Homo sapiens: one gene and its partners. The protein of the gene in region 1 interacts with the protein of each later gene in a pairwise test. Each region holds a gene or a part of one and is shown on either strand. Other genes may lie near its edges. The genes, in order: PKNOX2, BMP2K and NUP54.

Region 1 (3,654 bases):
CATGGCAATGTCTTGGCTTTGTTTTTGCTGCTGTCTCCTCAATGCCTAGGACTGTGCCGGGGACACAGAAGATGCTCTATAAATATTTGCTGAATGGAAGAACAAAGGGAATGGGTGAATGCCATGCTGCCCCTCCCCAGCAAGGCAGGACACCTGCCCATGATGCCCGATTACTGGGTTCTATTTCCAAGAATCCTCAACAACTATTTGTTCCCTCTCTACTAGATTTGGGATGGCGATGTGAGTAGAGATGTAAATTGAACACAAAAGACTACGTCCTAATGAGGTGGAGGATTTACAAGCCTCAGTGCCCTGTGACCTGCTGCTTCTGTGGCCGCTTTCTGGCCCATCTGGATCTGGCTCCTCCTCCACCCCAGCCTCCCCCCTCCCCCACTGGGCACCCCCACTGCCTTGACTGAGCCGTACTCAAATTGGCCACGTTCCTACTAAGCAGAAAACTAACAGTTACCCCACCCACCCCGGCCCTATCCGAACTCTCCAGAGTCTGCTCTGGGCCCCAGGGCCAGCTGCTTTTCTCCACATTCCAGCCAAAAATAATACAAGAACGAAGCTGTTTGGTGGAGACTTAATCTAATCTTCATTGCTTCAGTTTTAAAATATCCTGCCTGGTTTAGGGTTTCTTATTACACACAGGGATGTGTTTTTAGTGAGATAGGTCTTAGCAGAAACGTCCTTCTTGTAATTAGAAACCCAGGCAGGCCGGGCCTGCAGTGAGGCATCCAAGCCAAACAGCAGATCCCCTTGAAGACAACGCATTTGCAGCAAGCTCTTCTCAAGCTCTGCTTGACCGCGTGAGATGAACTGAGCTGTCCCGGGCTTGCTTCTCCCTCTCTCCTGGGGGTTCTGGACGGGAGGAAAACCTGGAGTTCAGGTAGAAAGACTGTGCCCTCCAACTGTTGCTCTCTCAACCCCCAGCCCTGTCTCCCACCCCCAATCAAAATGGAGACTAAGATGTTGCCTGTGATTGGCTGAGAAGGAAATGAGGAGGAAAAATTACCCCAAGGAATCCCCAAAGACTAGGGAGTATTAAAGACAAGCATTCCACCAGAGCCGCGTCTCCAGGATCAGAGCTAGCTTTTACAAATCAGACACCGGAACAGAAGGAGTCTACGAGCGCACACACAGTTTTGTGTAAGTGCCGGGTGTAACTTCTTGGGCTTTCTGGCCCAGAATCTGCTTTGATCTGCCAGCAGAGACTGCTAAGAGAGGTTCAGGCCGTGGCTAGCTGCAGACCAGCACCCAACCCCCTCAGCCGACCAGATGTCACACACACACCAGTCAGGGCTCAGGCCTTGCCTTCCCAGTGGAATAAAGAGAAGGGGCTGCATTTCTGATAAGTCAGATTCTGCATTCGTCTGATACAGGACAGCTATTCCAGGTAACACCATTTGGAAGAAGCGGGCTGGATCCCCCAACTCAGCCAAAATTGCCCCTCTTGGTAAAGTGTAGATGGTTTTTGGAGTCACAGCAGGCCTTTCAAATTCTAGGATGTAATGCAAGGCAGGAATTCAGCCCCTTTACTATAGCCTAAGAACTCCTGAGAGTTGTGGGGAAGGCCCTGGAGCCAGGCGAGGAAAGAAAACACACCGAAGAATGTGACTTTGCTGCTGAGAAGCCTCTATCTCCCATTTTTTTTACTCAGAGCGCAGCCTGTGCTTGATCCAAGCCCATCATCTCACCCTAGTGAGAACTGTGTGTGATACATTCCACTTTACAGATGAAGAAACCAAGGCCCAGAAGCTAGATGACCCACTGGAGTCATGCAGCCCTGGCAATAACAGAGTCAAAAGAGACCAGGCCACTAAATTTCAGCCTAAACACTAGCTCAGCATGCTGACCTGCCAACCTTGATTATCTGCCCACCACTTCCCTCCCTCCTTCCTCCCTTTCCCACCAGGTATTAGATTTAATTAAATTAGCAGATCCCCATCGCAACAATCCTGGCCATGCTGCCTGGATAGAACCCAGCCCGTGGAGCTCCTCCCTCTAAATTCTGCTTCTCAGTATAATTCAGTCTTCAATAAGTCACGGATCTCACGTGAAGTGTTTTATACAAAGCATGGTGTGTTGGCTAGACTCAGGCTAACGGTGGTTCATGATGATTTCATTTTCCATTAGAACTTCCTCAGTTTTTCCTCTGCAGCATCGTTTTCACCCTCTCCATGCTCGGATCTGCGTTTTGTTTGATCCAGACACTTGGCTTCACATGCCGTCACCTCCAGCAATTGCATCACACGTTTATATATATCTTACAGCATCGCAGTCCTTGTGCCACACAGCGTAGGAAAAAGGAAAACTCATAACAGCCTTTCTCACCCTCCTCGAACTAATTTAGAAAATGTGCTCCAGATTAAATAAATCGGGAACAAAAGCCTGAGATTAGAGATAGAATTTCAGAAAGTAGGGAGGGGGAAGCTAAATAAATAGCAAGGAAATCTTGCAACATGTTGGAAGCCTATAAATTTTATTGGTTGTTTCTTTAATAAAAACAAATTCAATTGCTAACAACGCAGTATTATTAAGCCTCTAACATTTAAACATCTAATTTTCCCCTGCTCTGCTGCTGTTTACGTTGCACGTTGGATTCACGGAAGGTAAAGAAGTCAGGTCAATTGGTTTGGTTTGATTCCTAAACCAAGCTAATAGAGACCCCTTTAAAATCCAGCCGTTTTGCTTTCTAGGCATGCCTTGGTCTCTAATGAGTTACAGCCCAGGTTGAAGATGGACATGGCAGAAAGAAATTTAACACACACTCTGGTGCACCCATAAACTTCAAGGCCAAGGGAGAGGAGGTATGTTTCCAGTTAAGCTAGAACTCCATGAATTCAGGATTCTCCACTCACAAGACAGTAATTCTACTTATTTCATCACTAACTTACTTCAAATGTGTTTATACAATTTATTGCTACTGAACTTCCAGGCAACTGGTGTAGAGTTAATGAAACCCAGCTTGGAGAAGCTTTGAGCTTTGAACAACTAACCACAGTTTAAATGGTTATGACATGCGGTCAAAGCCACAGCCTGAGCCCACTGCAGTTTCTGTGTTAGGACCTAGTCAAAAACCTTGTCATCTCACCTTTTGTGCCAAACAGATTGAAAAAGCAAAAAGCACTGAAAAACAGCCTGCCTTGTTCCTTCTCAAGGTTCCCAGGCATTTAAACACATTTATCTTACTAAACGCGAGGCAAAGCCCCTCCCCCAGTCCCAAGTAAATATTTTAGTTGCAGTTTGAATTGGCAGCTGGGCTGAAATCCTGAAATCCAGTTTGGGTTTAACTGAACAGGGGTCAGGCCTACCTAAAGCAATGCTGGGAGAGGCTGCTGGGGAGGCACCAAGCAACATTTAAAGGCAGACTCAGTGAAAGCCCAAAGGCAACACGAGAATGAACAGATGAAACCGGACTGGAAAAGAAGCAAACTCGTCTTTCAGAATCACTTGGACATTAACTTTTATTAATTCTCATTGTCACATGGCACCCTCCCCCAAGCTCTGCCATGTGGGATCCAGCAAGCTCCCTCTTTTTAAACAGGCCCATTTTGGAAGAGTAAAGGGGAGGTACTGGATTTGCCACTGCCACACAATAAAAGCCCCTTTTGAAAGCAGCACTTTCATTAACTTAAAGCAATCTATAGA
Region 2 (3,654 bases), on another chromosome or scaffold:
TCCCTTCTCAGTGGCTACACACCTAGAAAGGTGCCATGTGCTTTCACTGGAAGTACCACACTTGCATTTCTGTGTTGTGATGTCAGTAGCAGAAACCCTTAGTTAGAGCTTGCAATTTAGCTCCCTTTTCTCCTGAAGAGGAATCAAGTTACTACCCTGTAGAGATACTTCATTCTTCTATTTGGTTTATTTAGAAATCACCTATTCTGACTGATCTTTAAGAATGAATGCTATAAAGAGCTACCAAATTTTCTTTCAAATTCATAAAACTGTTCACACTTTTTTGAAACAGGAGTTAATGCCGAGAATCCATCAGAAGTATCTACTGTTTAGAAGGAAATGGAGCAGCACCAAATGGGTCTAATTCGACTGGTTGGGACTGTTGGGACTGATGTGGAGTGATGCTTTGCACCACAAGTTCTGTAAAGGGCACGGCACCAAAATCATCCATTTTCAATACATCTGCACTATGGAATGACCCATGTAGTGAATTTTGTCTTGGCCGCCCTGGCAGGACAGTATTGTGATCAGCACGGATGTCGCTCAGGCCCTGATGTGGAGGGTGCCATGACAGGTCTGGAGAATGGAAGGGCTTGGCACCGAAGGGGTCCAACAGGCTCTCCTCAGGTTGTAAGACATTCCCCCTATCTTTCCCATCAGTCAGTGCAACACTAATGTTCTCCTTGGAGTCTGAGATGGTTAAAAATTCATTGCTACTTTGAGAGTCTCGGCGGCCCACTTTTTTGTGCCTGCGAGCCCTCTCTGGAGTGCGATAGGTAGGCTTCAAAGTCTTCTTTGTGCTAGTTGGCGTGCCATGATGCCGCTTCCCATTACTTTTGGACATATCCTGCTTTGTGCGCCTTTGGCGAGAGGACAGTTTCTGTAAGCTGCGCTGTTTGACTTTTTGCTGCTGGCTCCCCGTTATTTCATCAAAGGGCACAAGCCCAAAAAGGTCCTCATTGCTTTCACTTTTACTTGTTGATGTGAGGAAGGGCTGAAATGGAGTGGAGCCAAATACATCTACACTTTTGGGATAACCAGGGATAGTATGTGCCTCAGGCCCCACTGCATGGCATTCTTGTACATTCACCTTCTTGCTAAAAGGCGCCTTTGTGAATACATCAAATTCCTCCTGCTCCAGTCCTGCAGCAGGAAACCTGTGTTGAGGGAGGTTCTTTTCATTCTTTTCTTGCTGGGGCTGTTGAGCACGCACTGCAAAGAAGGGGACAGCGCCAAATACATCAAACTCCTGTTTGGGAGTCTCCACTGCAACATCAGAGGATAATTGGGCTGAGGTGAGGAGTATTGTATTAAGATCTTGGGTTGGTCCACTGCCAGATCTGTCTCTGTAGACAGAGCTCATGTCACTGTACTTTGCTTTAGCCTGCTCATAATCAGAATCAGAGCTATGTTTCTCCTCTTCTTCCTCATCTTCAGAATCCATGAGGAGAGGCCTATGACCCAGATTTTCTGGTTCAGTATCATCATCATTAAAATCTCCTTGTTCCCCCTGAAGAACTTCTTCATCATCTTGCTCTTCCTCTTCACTGCTCTTAGGAGAAGGGGGATCTGATTCAAAATCACTTTCAGATTCATCATTCCCCTTTTGCACTTGACCCTGTACTGAGGTTTTCTTTCCAGTCCGCTGATCTTTAGATGCTGGACTTGTTTTACCGTTCTTGATAGGGTTTGCAGTGCCATTTTCTTGATTTATAGATGAATGTTCAGCTTTCTTTTCAGGAGAACCTGCAAGTTCAAATAAATATTATTACAGCATTCCAATGCATTTCAGAATCCTCTTGCACTAAATGTTAATATGTATTACACATGGCATTACAAATCCCTCATACGAGTTCCCTTAGAGGAAAAAATAATGTTGTCAATTCTTCGTCATTAGACTTAGAGAATGCATTTGACCTCAGGTAGATAGTTAAGTCTTAATGTAGACAGACTTATTCATATCTGGACCCTACACCCTGCCTCATCGTACTCTCACTGACAGCCAAATTTTATTTATAGCACACAGAATGTAGTAGACTAGCAAATTTTCTTCACCCCACCACCAAAATAACATTATTCTGCTAATTCTGAAAGCTCAGATTTCACATTCACCAAATACCTCCTGCTTATATTTCAACTCTTGTAAAGTTTTCCCATAGAGATCAACAAGCATGAACAGCCTGCCTGCTCAGTTACGTATTTGTTTCACTATTTTTTTAAATCAGCATTGTATTTTTTATAAACCACTATCTTTTGAATTGACTTAGCATGAATGGCCTCACCAAAGCTAAGGACCAGATACTAAATGGAGACTGTACCAAAAACATCTGCCTTCTCTAGATGATATGACTTCCTTTAATTATAATATCTATACATTACATTAAAAAAGCGAGATTCCTTTAAAAACAAATCTAAACCATCTGGAGATGTTTTTAGCTCAGAATCCATTCAGTCACTTCATTTTCTGAGTTCATTCAACGAAAGAAATATAGGGCACTTTGCTATACACTGATTATACATTGGTGAGTAAAAGAAACATGGTTTCTGCTTTCAGGGGTTTACAGTCAGAGGTTGTAAGTAAACATAAATTGTGACTAGTGCTCTGAAATAAAGGACAGCAGGGAAATGGGCGCATAAACCTACTTTGGACAGTGGTGAAGACCTCCCTAAGGAGACGACAGTTAGGATTGAACAATGAGAAGGAGCCCAGCCATGCAAAGGATAAGCTGGAAGCAGCTTCCAATAAAAGCAATGGCATATATAAAGACATATTTAAGGGGCTGAAAATAGGCTATTGTGGCTGGAATATAGTGAGCAAGGGAGGATCAGGTACAACATGAGGTAAGGAAGACTGGAAAAGGCCAGACTGTGAAGGTCCTCTAAGGCCATGATAAGCAGCGTATATTTCATTATACATCTAATTCAAAATTCCATGTATAATGGAAAGCTATTATTAAAATAGGTGTCATGATTAGGTTTACATAAAAAAAAATGACTGCTCTATAGAAAAACACTAAGGGGGCTGGGTGCGGTGGCTCACCCCTGTAATCCCAGCACTTTGGGAGGCCAAGGCGGGTGGATCACGAGGTCAGGAGTTTGAGACCAGCCTGGCCAACATGGTGAAACCCCATCTCTACTAAAAATAGAAAAATTAGCCAGGCATGTTGGCAGGTGCCAGCTGAGCCAGGAGAATCGCTTGAAACTGGAAGACAGAGGTTGCAGTGAGCCAAGATCGCACCACTGCACTCCAGTCTGGGCCAAAGAGCGAACTGTCTCAAAAAAAAAAAAAAAAAAAAAAAAGACTAAGGGAAGGTAAGAAGGGGAGTTCAGGCAAAAGGAAATTATAGTAATGCAAGTTAGAGATTTTGGTGGCCTAGATGACATGACAGTGGTGGCAGGGTGGGTCAAAGTAGAAAAAATAGAGATTGAAAACTCTTGGTGGATGGCAGCACCATTAACAGAAAGAAAAGAATGAGTGGCGTGATAGAAACCCATTTACCCTGATGTGATTATTATGCACTGTATACCTGTATCAACATATCTCATGTACCCCATAAATGTATATACCTACTATGTACCCACACACAAATTTTAATGAGCATAATTTTTTAAAAAATGAGTAAGTTGGAAAGTGAAGAGGAGTACTAAAAATTT
Region 3 (3,654 bases), on another chromosome or scaffold:
TATAAGGCACGCTAATAATCCAATTCATATCTATCTCTCCAACTCTCACTACTGACCCTGAGGTCATTTATGCATTAAAAAAACTGCACTGATCTAGTTATACTGGTCCCAAAGGCATTATACTCTGCCATAAACCATGCCATGTTATTTCCTCTGCGTGGATACCCTAGAATCTCCTTGACTATGAGCAAGGATTGTGGTCTTCAACCTTGTACACCCAATGCCTGACATACGATATATACAATAAATGGATATTACATAACAAAATGAGCCCCTTTCAATTTTAAAATAGCACCAGATTCAAATTCCCATTTTCCTAAAAAAACCAAATGTAACTACAGTTACTCATAGTTGGAGAGACTTTATTTCAAGAAACAAAGGAAACACTTCACTTTTGCTGTTCTTTCCTTAACTACTTAAATATTTCATCAAATTTTGTATTTTTGCAGGATTGTAGAAAAGACGAATGACTGGAATACTTGAAAGAATAATTCTGAGAATACTATTCTATTATCTTCATCCTACTGTTAGGCAATCCTTGAAATTCATGTTTAATAAGTTAATAACTAATCTTCAGTGACTGAGTAGGATGAATTTTAGCTAGTCAATCAAGTTACTTAAAAAAATGAAACAGAAGTAATTTTAAGAGGCATCAGATTGGAAAAGTGAAAAGAGCACTAGAATGAGTAGTTGAATTTGCATCCCTGTACTTCTTCTAGAGAGGTATACAGGTAAGTCACAATCTCTCAGGTTCCTCTCTTCACCCATAAAATGGGGATAACAAAAGTATTATTTCACAGGGTTCTTGTGAGAATAAGTTAATCCATACAGAACAACCCCTGGAACCTACTGCCATACCACCTAGTAAGGATGGTTAGTAAGGAAGCCATCAAAGACTAATAACCAGACTGTCTCAAAGGGACTTGGGAGCCAACTTGAAAAGGCTTGCACTGGCCAAAGATGTAACAATTTAAGCATCAATAAGAATGGTAACTGCAATGGATTAAAAAATAGTAACTAGTTTAAAGGCTGCAGTTTCTGACATTAAAAAAAAATTGGTCATCTTTGGAGAATGCTAGATAACCAACTCTTTATTCTGAAAACCAGTAATAAAGAGAAAGAATCAACCAAACAGATGAAGTCAAGTTTCTCCTCACAGAAGTATTTCAACAAATAAATGAATCCAGGTGGAATGGCACTATTTGTAACCCCTAATGAATTAATGGATCTAGGTAATGATCACCAATGGCTCAATGGCTGATCACTCAAAAAAAAAAGATATTATATGTCTTCTGATAAAAAATAGGCCTATAAAATAGTCTTGCAAACAAACAACAAAACAACAAAATATATATATGTACGCCCCAGATCTAACCCAATCATCAAGAAATACAGAGAACAAAGGAATGTGTTAAACTATACCATAGGCGTGCAATCAGAAAAGTCTTGACTAAAAAACTCTATAGGATAAATGATCTGTTTTCTTCAACAAATTAAAAAATAAAAAAGAGAGGCCAGGCGCGGTGGCGCACACCTGTAATCCCAGCACTTTGGGAGGCCGAGGCAGGCAGATCACGAGGTCAGGAGTTCCAGACCAGCCTGGCCAATATGGTAAAACTCCGTCTCTACTAAAAATACAAAAATTAGCTGGGCGTGGTGGTGTGCGCCTGTAGTCCCAGCTACTCAGGAGGCTGAGGCAGAAGTATCGCTTGAACCTGGGAGGCGGAGGTTGCAGTGAGCCGAGGTCGTGCCACTGCACTCCAGCCTGGGCGACAGAGCAAGACTCCGTCTCAAAAAATAAAAAATAAATAAAAAAGAGAGATAAAAGAGGAGCCTATGGAGATTTAAGACAGGCAAAACCAAATACTGTTTACATACTTGAATGACAAAATATAAAGTAAGAAAATGATCACCATAAAAGCCAAGACTGCAGGTCCTCTGATGGGGAAGCAATTGGTAGGGAAATGTGGTAGGCTTCTGAACTGGCTGGCCAGGAACCATCTCCTGACATGGGCAGTGATTACAAGGGTGTTAACCTTTGTAAACTTATATATAATTCATTAAGCTGTACTTTTGTGCAGTTTCTCTATTTGTTATTTTTAACAACAAAAATTTAAATGGAATGATCCTAAACACAGGGACCTTATAATCCTAACTGTGCCAATCAGTGTTCTCCCCAGTTGCTATCATATTTAAACATGAAAAGTAACATTCCTAATCCTTTGGAATATATTAATAATTCTTATAAAAAGTCCACTAAAGTATTCTGAATGCACTCAATAATGTCAGCTAGTATCATCACGGTTTTGTATTTGAAGCTGAAAACCTCATACTTACTAGTTTGCTGCTGCTGCTGTGTATTAAATCCTCCAAATCCCAGTCCAGTTCCCAAACCAGTACCTAAACCAGTACTAGTTCCCGTTGTTGTGCCAAAACCAGTACCAAATCCAAAACCTTTGTTCTGAGTACCACCAAAGAGTCCTTTGAATGAAAAATTGGAACTTCGTAAGTTAAAAAAAAAAAAAAATCTGACCTCTACTTCATTTACTTCTATGAATGACTTAAGATGGCCTCTTACCAGTAGTGCCTGTGTTAGTTGGGGCAGAAAAGCTGAATGCAGAACCTGCAGTTGTAGATGTTGTCCCAAATCCTCCAAACCCACCTAATTAAAAAAGAACAAAAATAGAAAGGAAGAATCTTTTGTATATATAAAGGCAACTTCTTTTTAAAATTATTTTATAATTGCTACATATAAAATCAAAATATATTGATCTAATTTTTCCTTTCCCTACTTTCAAGATCAATTTTTTAAAAAACTATACTACCAATCAAGAAGTCAAAATGTTACAAGAAATGAACTAAGCATTTAAAATAGAAATATCACAATGTAATATATACCCTTCAATTAAAGGGGTGGTTAACAGTTACAGCTGAGAAAACACATTAAGCCTATTGCCATAATTCTAAAATGACTATGTATGTACTTTTAGAGGAGGTGTTGCAAATTCATATGCCTAGAAGATTTAGACTGATAACAGTAAAGAGTAAAGTAGACTATGTGTTTACTGATAGGTGGAACTGTTTAAAATGAATAGTTTTTTAGATCAGCAGTTCCTAAATTCCAGCAGATACAAGAAAGGTAGTTTAGCAGTGTCACATATTCCCATTTTTTACCCCAAGAGAAACAGGAAATCTGGATTTTCTATGTAAAATTTATTGGTTTTTGGCTGGGCGCGGTGGCTCATGCCTGTAATCCCAGCACTTTGGGAGGCCGAGGGGGGTGGATCACAAGGTCAGGAGATCGAGACCATCCTGGCTAACACGGTGAAACCCCGTGTCTACTAAAAATACAAAAAATTAGCCGGGCGTGGCGGCGGGCGCCTGTAGTCCCAGCTACTCAGGAGGCTGAGGCAGGAGAATGGCGTGGACCCGGGAGGTGGAGCTTGCAGTGAGCCAAGATCTTGCCACTGTACTCCAGCCCGGGCGACAGGGTGAGACTCCGTCTCAAAAAAAAAAAAAAAAAAAAAATTTATTGGTTTTTAAACCCTAATTCAACTACTTTTTTTTGCAAGGAATTCAAATGTTTTGAAAACAGCATGCCAAACATATCACATTGGCAGACTTGTTGCCAGTTAGCAACCTTGGTTTTGGTGA

What was found.
Region 2: the proteins of PKNOX2 (region 1) and BMP2K interact in a two-hybrid assay, tested with the Homo sapiens proteins (one large-scale study listed by IntAct).
Region 3: the proteins of PKNOX2 (region 1) and NUP54 interact in binary tests that used the Homo sapiens proteins (3 or more experiments, as listed by UniProt).

The regions. Positions count from the first base shown.
Region 1 is NC_000011.10:125,167,701-125,171,354, reverse strand, and holds part of PKNOX2 (homeobox protein PKNOX2), read right to left. Parts: intron 1-3,654.
Region 2 is NC_000004.12:78,908,702-78,912,355, reverse strand, and holds part of BMP2K (BMP-2-inducible protein kinase), read right to left. Parts: intron 1,747-3,654; coding exon 323-1,746; 3' UTR 1-322. UniProt on the Homo sapiens protein: May be involved in osteoblast differentiation.
Region 3 is NC_000004.12:76,141,812-76,145,465, forward strand, and holds part of NUP54 (nucleoporin p54), read right to left. Parts: intron 2,663-3,654; coding exon 2,579-2,662; intron 2,482-2,578; coding exon 2,338-2,481; intron 1-2,337. UniProt on the Homo sapiens protein: Component of the nuclear pore complex, a complex required for the trafficking across the nuclear membrane.